Linked DNA regions of Homo sapiens: region 2 is linked to region 1. Evidence: fine-mapped expression QTL. A gene starts in region 1. The other region holds a variant in brackets. All regions are shown on one strand. Distances are from middle to middle. Region 1 holds the start of LINC02289 (long intergenic non-protein coding RNA 2289). Region 2 overlaps ZDHHC22 (zDHHC palmitoyltransferase 22).

Region 1 (4,386 bases):
TTCCTTGCCATGTGGACCTCTCCATGGACCTCCCTGAGTAGCTTCATGACATGGCAGCTGACTTCTCCCAGAATGAGTGGTTCAAGAGAGCAGGGAGGAGGTCACAATGTCTCTTATGACTATATTAGATCCACAGGGCTGCTGTAACAAAGTACCACAAGCAAGATAACTTAACAGAAATTTACTCTTTCACAGTTCTGGGGGCCAGAAGTCTGAAACCACATTGTCAGCAGGGTCAGAACGGTGGCACATGGAAGGTGCTCATTGGTGAAACAATGAGTGGGAAAGAATAAATCATTCCTTGCCTCTTCCAACTTCTGACGGCCGCAGATGTTTCTTGGCTTGTGGCTGTATCATTCCAATCTCTGTCTCCATCTTCACACGGCCTTCTCCCTTGTGTCTGTCTACTCTTTGTCTCTCTCTCCTTATGAGAACACCAGTCATTGGATGTAGGGCCCACTCTAGTCAAGAACAACCCTTGATTACAACTGCGAAGACTATTTCCAGAAAAGGTCACATTTATAGGCCCTGGGGGTTAGGGCTGCAACATATCTTCTGGGGGACATCATTAAACACACAACAATGACCTAGCCTCAGAAGATGCATGCCATCAGCTCTGCAATAGCAAGTGGCTACAAGGGTCGGCCCTGTTCACGGAGGGAGGAGACACAATGATGTGAATACCAGGAGATGGGGACAATGAGGGGCCATTGTGGAAGCAGGCTACCACAATATCATCAGATAGCAAACTGAACATGAGACAGACTCCCATATGTAGTATTTACAAAGGAAATAATGGGGAACCAGTTGCATAGCACTCAGGGCCCTCAGCCTACCAACAATATAGAGTGTGGAGAATGGGGAGAGTTTGGAAATAGAAACTTCCAGAAAGGGCAAAGCCATGCTGTAAGCTACCCCACCAAGGAGTTAGGGGCCCTACTGCTTTCAACTCAAGCCTAGTGATGGGGGCTTCCATGCAGCCACTTGGAGCTGTGGGCCCCCATGGGACTGTGCCAGGAGGGACTGCATTAGGATGAGTGAAGGGGCTGTGTGAGTTCTTCCCATGGGCCACATGTGGATCAGATGGACCATGGCAGGAGAGAGGGCCAAGGTGGGGGTCATTTTAAGTCCTGTAGGGCCTCTGAGAAGGGCAAAGGGATGTCAGCAGAAAGAAGTTGGAAGAGGATGCTGGATTTCTAGGGGTTGAAGATGGAGTCATAGCTGTACCTGAAATGGAGGTGCAGAACAGGGAACTTCAGGAGAAAACCTTAGAGATGGGAACTTTTTTTTTTTTTTTTTTTAAGACAGGGTCTCACTCTGTTGCCCAAGCTGGAGTCCAGTGGCCCAAACTCGGCTCACAGCAACCTCTACCTCCTGGGTTCAAGCAATCCTCCTGCCTCAGCCTCCCAAGTAGCTGGGACTACAGGCGTGCAGCACCACCCCCAGATACTTTTTGTATTTTTGGTAGAGATGAGGTTTAGCCATGTTGCTCGGGCTGGTCTAGTACTCCTGGGCTCCAGTGATCTGCCCGCCTCCGCCTTCCAAAGTGCTGGGATTATAGGCGTGAGCCACCAAGCCTGGCTGAGATGGGAACTTCTGAAGAACACAGGGAACCCTCCAGAAAGAGCTTTCACCATCTGCCACACCCAGAGAGCTGGCAATCATACAGTCAAGTAAAAACTGCCCTATTCCCCTGCTCCCCATCCGCTTCCCTGCATCCTCACCCACCACCTCCACTTAGACTCTGAAAGCAACCAGCAAGTGGGGAGAGGGGTATTCGGGAGAGAATAGACAAAAGCCACCATGCCCAGTCCCTGGCAGCTGGCAGCCCCCAACTAAGGCCTTAACTAGGGCAGGAGGAAGAAGATTTCTCTTTGAAGAAAAATGCAAGAGTCATTTAATATCTTTGGGTGGCTGCTTTAAATCTCTAAGTCGATACTGGATTTCGTGACATAAAATGTACATACCTAAGCATGACCAGAAGAGCCTCGGGGTCAGCTGAGCTTTCAGCCAGGGGAAGGGGAAATGCTTCCCTTGCTTTAGCTCAAATGCACAGTGAGAGCCAAAGCAAATTGAGTTACATGTTGGTTCCACCCCACATTCAAGGGATTGGTTTCACCGAATCCCCGCCTCCACAGGGAATTGGGTCTTATATTTCTTACCCCCAACCCTCCCCGCCATGGCAGAGCCACAAGGAGGTTCCTGAAGAAAATCCCTTCTCGGCTTTTGTGCAGAATTGAAGAATGTTTACTATGTTTTCCTTCCTGTCTCTCTGGAAATGACGCAAAGAATAACAACAACAAAAAAGAACTCCTTGTCCCGTGCAAAACACCCGCCCCTCCCCCGCCCCTGACCTCCTAACTCTTCACCCTGTGTTGGCCTGACTTCACCCTGGGATGGGGAAACTTCCTGGGAGGATATAGCTGACCTGGGAACAAAACTTGTTTTTTTGAAAGCTTTGTGCAACGTCAACTAAGTTGGGGGAGGGGTCTGGGCAAGGAAAGAAGAAAGCAAAGGGGGGCAGGGTGGGAACAGTTCTGCTAAACCAAACAATTCCCCAGGGATGATGGAGCTGTGGTGACCTGATAAGTCCTTTAAATGTCTTATTAATTACTGGGGGAAAAATTGGCTACTTCTGAGTCTCCCCTCTCTCACTGTCCTTGCACAAGCTTGGGACTAGCTCTGTCCTTTTTTAAGAGTCAGTCTTGGGCCGGGCATAGTGGCTCACTCCTGTAATCCCAGCACTTTGGGAGGCTAAGGCAGGAGGATCCCTTGAGGCCAGGAGCTTGAGACCAGCCTGGGCAACATAGCGAGACCTCATCCCTACAAATAATTTTTAAAAATTAGCTTGGAGTGTTGGTGTGTGTCTGTGGTCCCTGCTACTCAGGAGACTGAGGCAGGAGGATTACTTAAGCCCAGGCAGTGGAGGCAGCAGTGAGCTGTGATTGCACTATTGCACTCCAGCCTGGGTGATAGAGCAAGAACCTATCTCAAAAAAAAAAAAAAAAAAAAAAGAGTCCAGCTTTTTAAAGAAGGGTGCCCCTTGGTGGAAGACAACAGGACAAGGCAGGAGCTGGGGCTGCGGAGAGTCCGGGGTCTGCAGAGCATGGGGCTGCCATCAGAGACCCACCAGGCAGGTTCCTGCTCCTAGCAAGGACCCGGCTGAGCAGAGATGAGGGTGTGGAGGTGAACCTGGAAAACATGCAGAGGATTCTAGACACATTCCACAGTCAGAGCCTCTGGAAAGCCCACCTTCTCCATCACAGAGGCTTTGGGGAATAGACATCCTGTTTCTCTGTATTATTACAGCACAAAGCATTTATCATGCTGACAATGACAGTGACATTTCAGGACCTAAACAAGCTTAGTTGTTCACAGCTTACAGGAGAGAAGGCTCCTAACACTCTTTATTTATTTATTTATTTGTTTGTTTATTTATTTTGTTTTTGTTTTTTTTTGTTTTGAGACAGAGTTTCGCTCTGTCGCCCAGGCAGACAGAGTGCAGTGGCAAGATCTCGGCTCACTGCAAGTTCCGCTTCCAGGGTTCACGCCATTCTCCTGCCCAGCCTCCCGAGTAGCTGGGACTACAGGTGCCTGCCACGGCGCCTGGCTAATTTTTTGTATTTTTAGTAGAGGCGGGGTTTCACCGTGTTAGCCAGGATAGTCTCCATCTCCTGACATCTTGATCCACCCACCTCGGCCTCCCAGAGTGCTGGGATTACAGGCGTGAGCCACCGCGCCCGGCCTATTTATTTGTTTTTTGAGACAGAGCCTTGCTCTGTCATCCAGGCTGGAGTGCAATGGTGTGATCTCGGCTTATTGCAACTTCCACCTCCCAGGTTCAAGCAATTCTCCTGCCTCAGCCTCCCGAGTAGTCGGGACTACAGGTGTGCACTACCACAGCAGGCTATTTTTTTTTTTTTTTTTTAGTAGAGACAGAGTTTCTCCACGTTGGCCAGGCTGGTCTCGAACTCCTGACCTCAGACAATCTGCCTGCCACATGATTAGGTCCTGAGGGCTCTCCCCTCATGAATGGGATTAAGACTTTTATAAAAGAGGCCTGAAGGAGCTTGTTGACCCCTTCTGCCATGCAAGGACACAGAGGAGGCACCATGTATGAGGAATGAGCCCTCACAAGACACTGAATCTGCTGGCGCCTTGACCTTGGACTTTCCAGTCTCCAGAACTGTGAATGATAAATTTCCATTGTTTATAAATTACCCAGTCTAAGGTATTTTGTTATAGCAGCCAAAACCATCTACAGAGCACTAATGACAGTTTGGGCTGGATTATTCTTCGTTGTCGGGGCTGCCCTGTACATTGTAGGATGTTTTGGAATATCCCTGGCCTCTATCCACAAGATGCCAGTAGCGCCTCCCCCAACTC
Region 2 (4,386 bases), 59 kb after region 1:
TATCAGTAATTATCTTTCCCTGTCCCTTCTTCCTTGCCTTCCCATCATCTGGCAAAGACCTGGGGGCTGGAGATCAAGTAGAAAGGCTGGAAGAGTTCCAGGGACAGGAAGCATCCAGCCAGGTCCTGGACTGGGCTGGGCCGGCCAGATGGGGCAGGGTGGACAGGGAATAACATTTGGAAAAAGCAGGCCATTGATTGCTGTCTCCCAGAAAAAGGGTCTTGAACCTGGTGGGGGGTGGTGAGGGAGCAGCAAGCTACTAAGTTCTTTTTCCTACAGAGGGGATGCGGACACACACCCACTCTTTCCCAACTCCCCTAGCAGTTGGCAGAGCTGACTTGGCTGCCTCTTACACGTGGTGATTTTAAACATTTGCCAGCCTCTAGGTCCCAGGGAGTCTCATACCAGCAGCAAGAATCCACTCCCCTCTCCCAACATGGGGGCTGAGAGGAAGGGCTCTAGCAGACAGCAGTGATGAATGAGACACGGTGGAGAATGGATGAGCCAGGAAGAGGGGGAAAGCAGGGATCCCAAGGGGACGGAAAGAAAGCAGAGGCAGCCTAACAGCTAGCAGCCACCTGGCTGGCTCGTGAGGAGCCTAGAAATGCCTGGGGGGACATTTTTCCTCCTTGTCATGATCCACCAGCTCACGCTGTTCTCATGGGTGGAAGGTGAGGGGAAGATGCTAGGACCTTACCAGCACAAGGTTGTAGTGAGTCATGGGTGGAGACAAGGCTGCCATGGTTTTATGCTCAGGAGGAGTCAAGACAGAGACAGAGAGATAAATGACGGGAGTGTCTACTACTTATCCTGCTGCTTGGAGCTCTCACTTCCGACATTGAACATGGGGACCAGCAGGCCCAGCAGCCACCTCTTTCCGAAGACCTCTTGTAAGTTCTTGCGCCAGGGCCGGGCCCTCACTGCCACCCCCTTCCGCACCTGGTGGCGGGTCTGCCCGCGGAGGATCAACAGCAGCTGGTGGCAGCAGAAGCCGGCGCAGGCCAGGCCGATGGCGAACCAGAGGTAGAGCATGAGGATGACGAACATTTCAGAACCCAGGACAGCTCCTGCAGGGCACGGGGAGGGGAAACACCAGAGCCGCTTTACACCCAGGCCACCGGCATAACTGCGATCTAGGCAGGCTTTCCACCGGGAGGGAGGGAGATTAATGAGATTGACGCTACATTTTGTAGCAACCTCAGCGCTGCAGCTGCAGTGAGGGAGAGGAAGGAAGAACCAGCTGCCCTAACTTTTTCTTGGCGCGGATGGCACCTGAGGCAAGAGGGGAAGACTGGAGACATGGCAGAGAAGAGAGCTAAGTTTGATGAGCTTAGCAAGGACAGCCCTCAGCTCCTGGGGCAGCACCTGGCCGCTGATAACATTTCTGTAGAGTAGGAGATGCCTGTCTCTCTCTGCTTTCTCCTTTTGGGCTAGAAGCAGGGTGAAGGGGTTTTGCTCAGGAGGAGAGAGGGGTGAGCTGGGGACCCTAAAGAGGGAGCAGGTGCCTGGGCAGCTGTCTAGTCCACAGCACCTTCTCCCTACTGTTCTGGGAACGCTGGTTGAGAGGACTCAGGAAAATGACAGCATGATGGAGATCTGGGAAGAATAAGTCACGAGCTTAGTCTGAAGAGCAGCCCAGAACACCAACGTAGAGAATAATTCAGTCATTAATGTTAACAAGAGGACAGTGTGGCCACCACCGCATTCCACCAGAGCTGGTTCTGTCAATCAAAGCTTGCTAGAAGAGGCCCCCAAGGTCATCAGCCCTGTGTCGTGGGGCAGGATCTCCCCAGAATCCCTCTAAACCAAGCACTTCCTATTACTGGTTTGAAATAACCACTGAGTAAGAGCTCCCACACTCTTCCTCAGAGTTTGGGTGGCTGGTCCATGCTAGGTTTGAATCTCCCAGCTGTGTGGACTGGCACAAGTGTCCCAACCTCTCAGTTGCAGCTCGTTCATCTGTACAATGGGTATAATAACACTAACGATTTCATACAGCTGCATGTTTCAAGAAAATGATGTACAGAGTGGTCAGCATTCCGGTTCACACTCAGAGCGGTGCTCCCAGCAGAGGGTCATTTTACAGAGCAGGAGACTACATCCAAAATGAGTTCAACTCCTGAAACTATCAAGCTTTTTCCTTCTCCTTTTCAGGGCTTAGAGTCCTGGCTGGGCTGCAACTTTGGCAGCTGTGGCAAAGACACTTACCTTGACCTACCCAGCAGCCAGGGCACTGGACCCTGGAGTTAATTCGAAAGTATTCCTTAGCCTTTGGTTCCCTGTAGGGCAACCCTATCACCTCCTCTGG[T/TG]GGGGGGGGGGCACCTCCTCTAAGGACTCCACCTTACAACCTATTCTGCCCTTGAAAATCTCAACCATATTTTGCCCTTTCCCTAGCCTTCTCTTGCCCCAGCCCACCTCTTCCCAAGTCTCTCCAACCTCCAATTTCCAAAGCCCTGTCAACTGGGCTTTCAACACTTGTCCAGTATGAGCAGTGGTGGACTCAGCAGCCATGGAGGATGTGGATCTGATTTAGATTCTCTCATTAGCAGCCTCCTCTTGTCCTCATCCCTAGGAGCTTGGATAGCTGTATTATTTTTTTTTTTTTTTACAAAGCTGGGGACAGATAGGCCCAGCTGCCATTTACAGCAGCCCCTCCACTGGCACAGGGGCAGCAGTGGGACAGGGCTCACATTGGGCTGTGCCATCCCCTGACCCACTTCTTCCATGTCGGCACAGATTAGCTTGGGCAGCCATGTGGGGGATGGAGGATCCCAGGTCCATGGTGCTCTTTGGCGTGAGGAATGCTGACAGGCAAAGGTGGCCCTCAAGCTGGGATGTGAGAACATCAGAGCTGTCAAGCTTGGGCCTGCCTTGCAACACTGCCCCAGGAACAAGCCTGGGTGGATGGAAGCCATTTCCCACAGGGTTTTTTCCTGGCACTAAATCAAGGCATGAGAAAAAGAACTTGCGGCCTTTTCTTGGCCCCATGCAGCAGCTACAAAAGGCTATTCTGGGGACCTGCTTTCTCTAAAAGTGTTTGAAGTTACCTAGCCTGGCTGCTTCAGCTCCTCTTAACTATTTAATAATAGTTCTGCCTCTTTTTAAAAATCACAGAATTTTCCTAATGAGCCTAAAAGGACACATCAGTCAATCTCCCCTGCCCCTTCCTCCCAACAGGCATCTATAACACCTTTGACAAATAATCACCCAGCATACTTTTTAATACATCCAAGGACAAGTAGCTGCCTCCCTTCCAAAGTGGCTCATTCGAGAAGCAGCTTCAGAGAGGCAGCCCCCAAGAGGCAGTATGGTGGGTGGAAAGAGTATGAGCTTTGGAGGCTAGAAGCCCCAACTCCAAATCTTGGTTTGGAATCGTACCAGCTGTGTGGTGTTGGTGCAACTTAACCTTGCTGAGTCTTTGGTTTCTGAGCCTTAAAAATGGACATGATAATATGGACTTGTCAAGAGGAATGGGTGAAATGTGACATGCATAGTGGGTGGTACATAATAGGTGCTCAATGAACATTAGTCCCCTTTCCCTCTTACTGGACTTTCTGGTAGCACCCATCATGCTGGTGTACTTACCCAAATGCCAAGATACAGGTCAGATGGTGGCATCTCCATTTCCCAGATAAGAATAAGGTTCAGAGAGGTGACACAGCAACCTGTACTGGTCCCACAAAGCCAAAAGAAAGGGTAACTTCTGAAACCTAACTAGCTAGCCGCCTCCCTCTCTGGATCAGCTGAGGGCCTGTGGTTGGCCGCCACCTTCACACTAGAAGACCCCTCCCACTTTTAGCTCTCAAGGCCCAAACTCACAGCCATCCATGCTCTGGTGACAGATCTGACTCAGATCTGTACCACAGTTGGGGACAGCTCAATTTCTTTCTTTCTTTTTTTCTTGAGACAGGGTCTTGCTCTGTAGCCCAGGCTGGATAGAGTGCAGTGGCATGATCATAGCTCACTGCAGCCTCAAACTCTTGGGCTCAAGCAATTCTCTCACCTCAGCCTCCTGAGTAGCTGGGAAAACAGGCACATGCCACTATGCCTGGCTAGTGTATTTATTTATTTTTTATTTTTGTAGCAACGGAGTCTCACCATCTTGCCCAGGCTGATCTTGAACTCAATTTCTATTAAACAACCCATGCTTCTTACTCTTTTCTGTCCACCTGTCCTCCTGTGCAGATGAGAGAGGGTGCTACCAACTGTTCGGATTGAGGGTTGGGGAACAAGAGGAATGGGAAAGGGAAAGCCAAACAGGTGGGGTGTATGTCATGGGAGGGAAAGAAAGGAAGGTCCTCAAGAGGAAAGATGAAAGGTCACAAAAGATGAGATAGGAGAGTTGGAGGTAAGAAGTCTTGCTCGCCTGTTTCCAGTGGATATGGT

The links. PIP is the estimated chance that this variant, and not a neighbour inherited with it, causes the effect.
Region 2: its variant is fine-mapped to the expression of LINC02289 in whole blood (INTERVAL, PIP 0.92).

What each region holds. Positions count from the first base shown.
Region 1 is chr14:77,074,138-77,078,523 of GRCh38, forward strand. LINC02289 (long intergenic non-protein coding RNA 2289) reads right to left here and starts at 2,054. Exons shown (of 3, transcript NR_110553.1): 1 at 1,968-2,054. RefSeq lists a silencer at 1,909-2,203.
Region 2 is chr14:77,132,882-77,137,267 of GRCh38, forward strand. ZDHHC22 (zDHHC palmitoyltransferase 22) reads right to left here. Exons shown (of 3, transcript NM_174976.2): 3 at 1-1,067. The coding sequence ends at 802. Among named protein-coding and RNA genes, the nearest start is that of ZDHHC22, 6.7 kb to the right of the region's middle. RefSeq lists an enhancer at 907-1,406. The variant T/TG (reference allele first, on the strand shown) is at 2,309.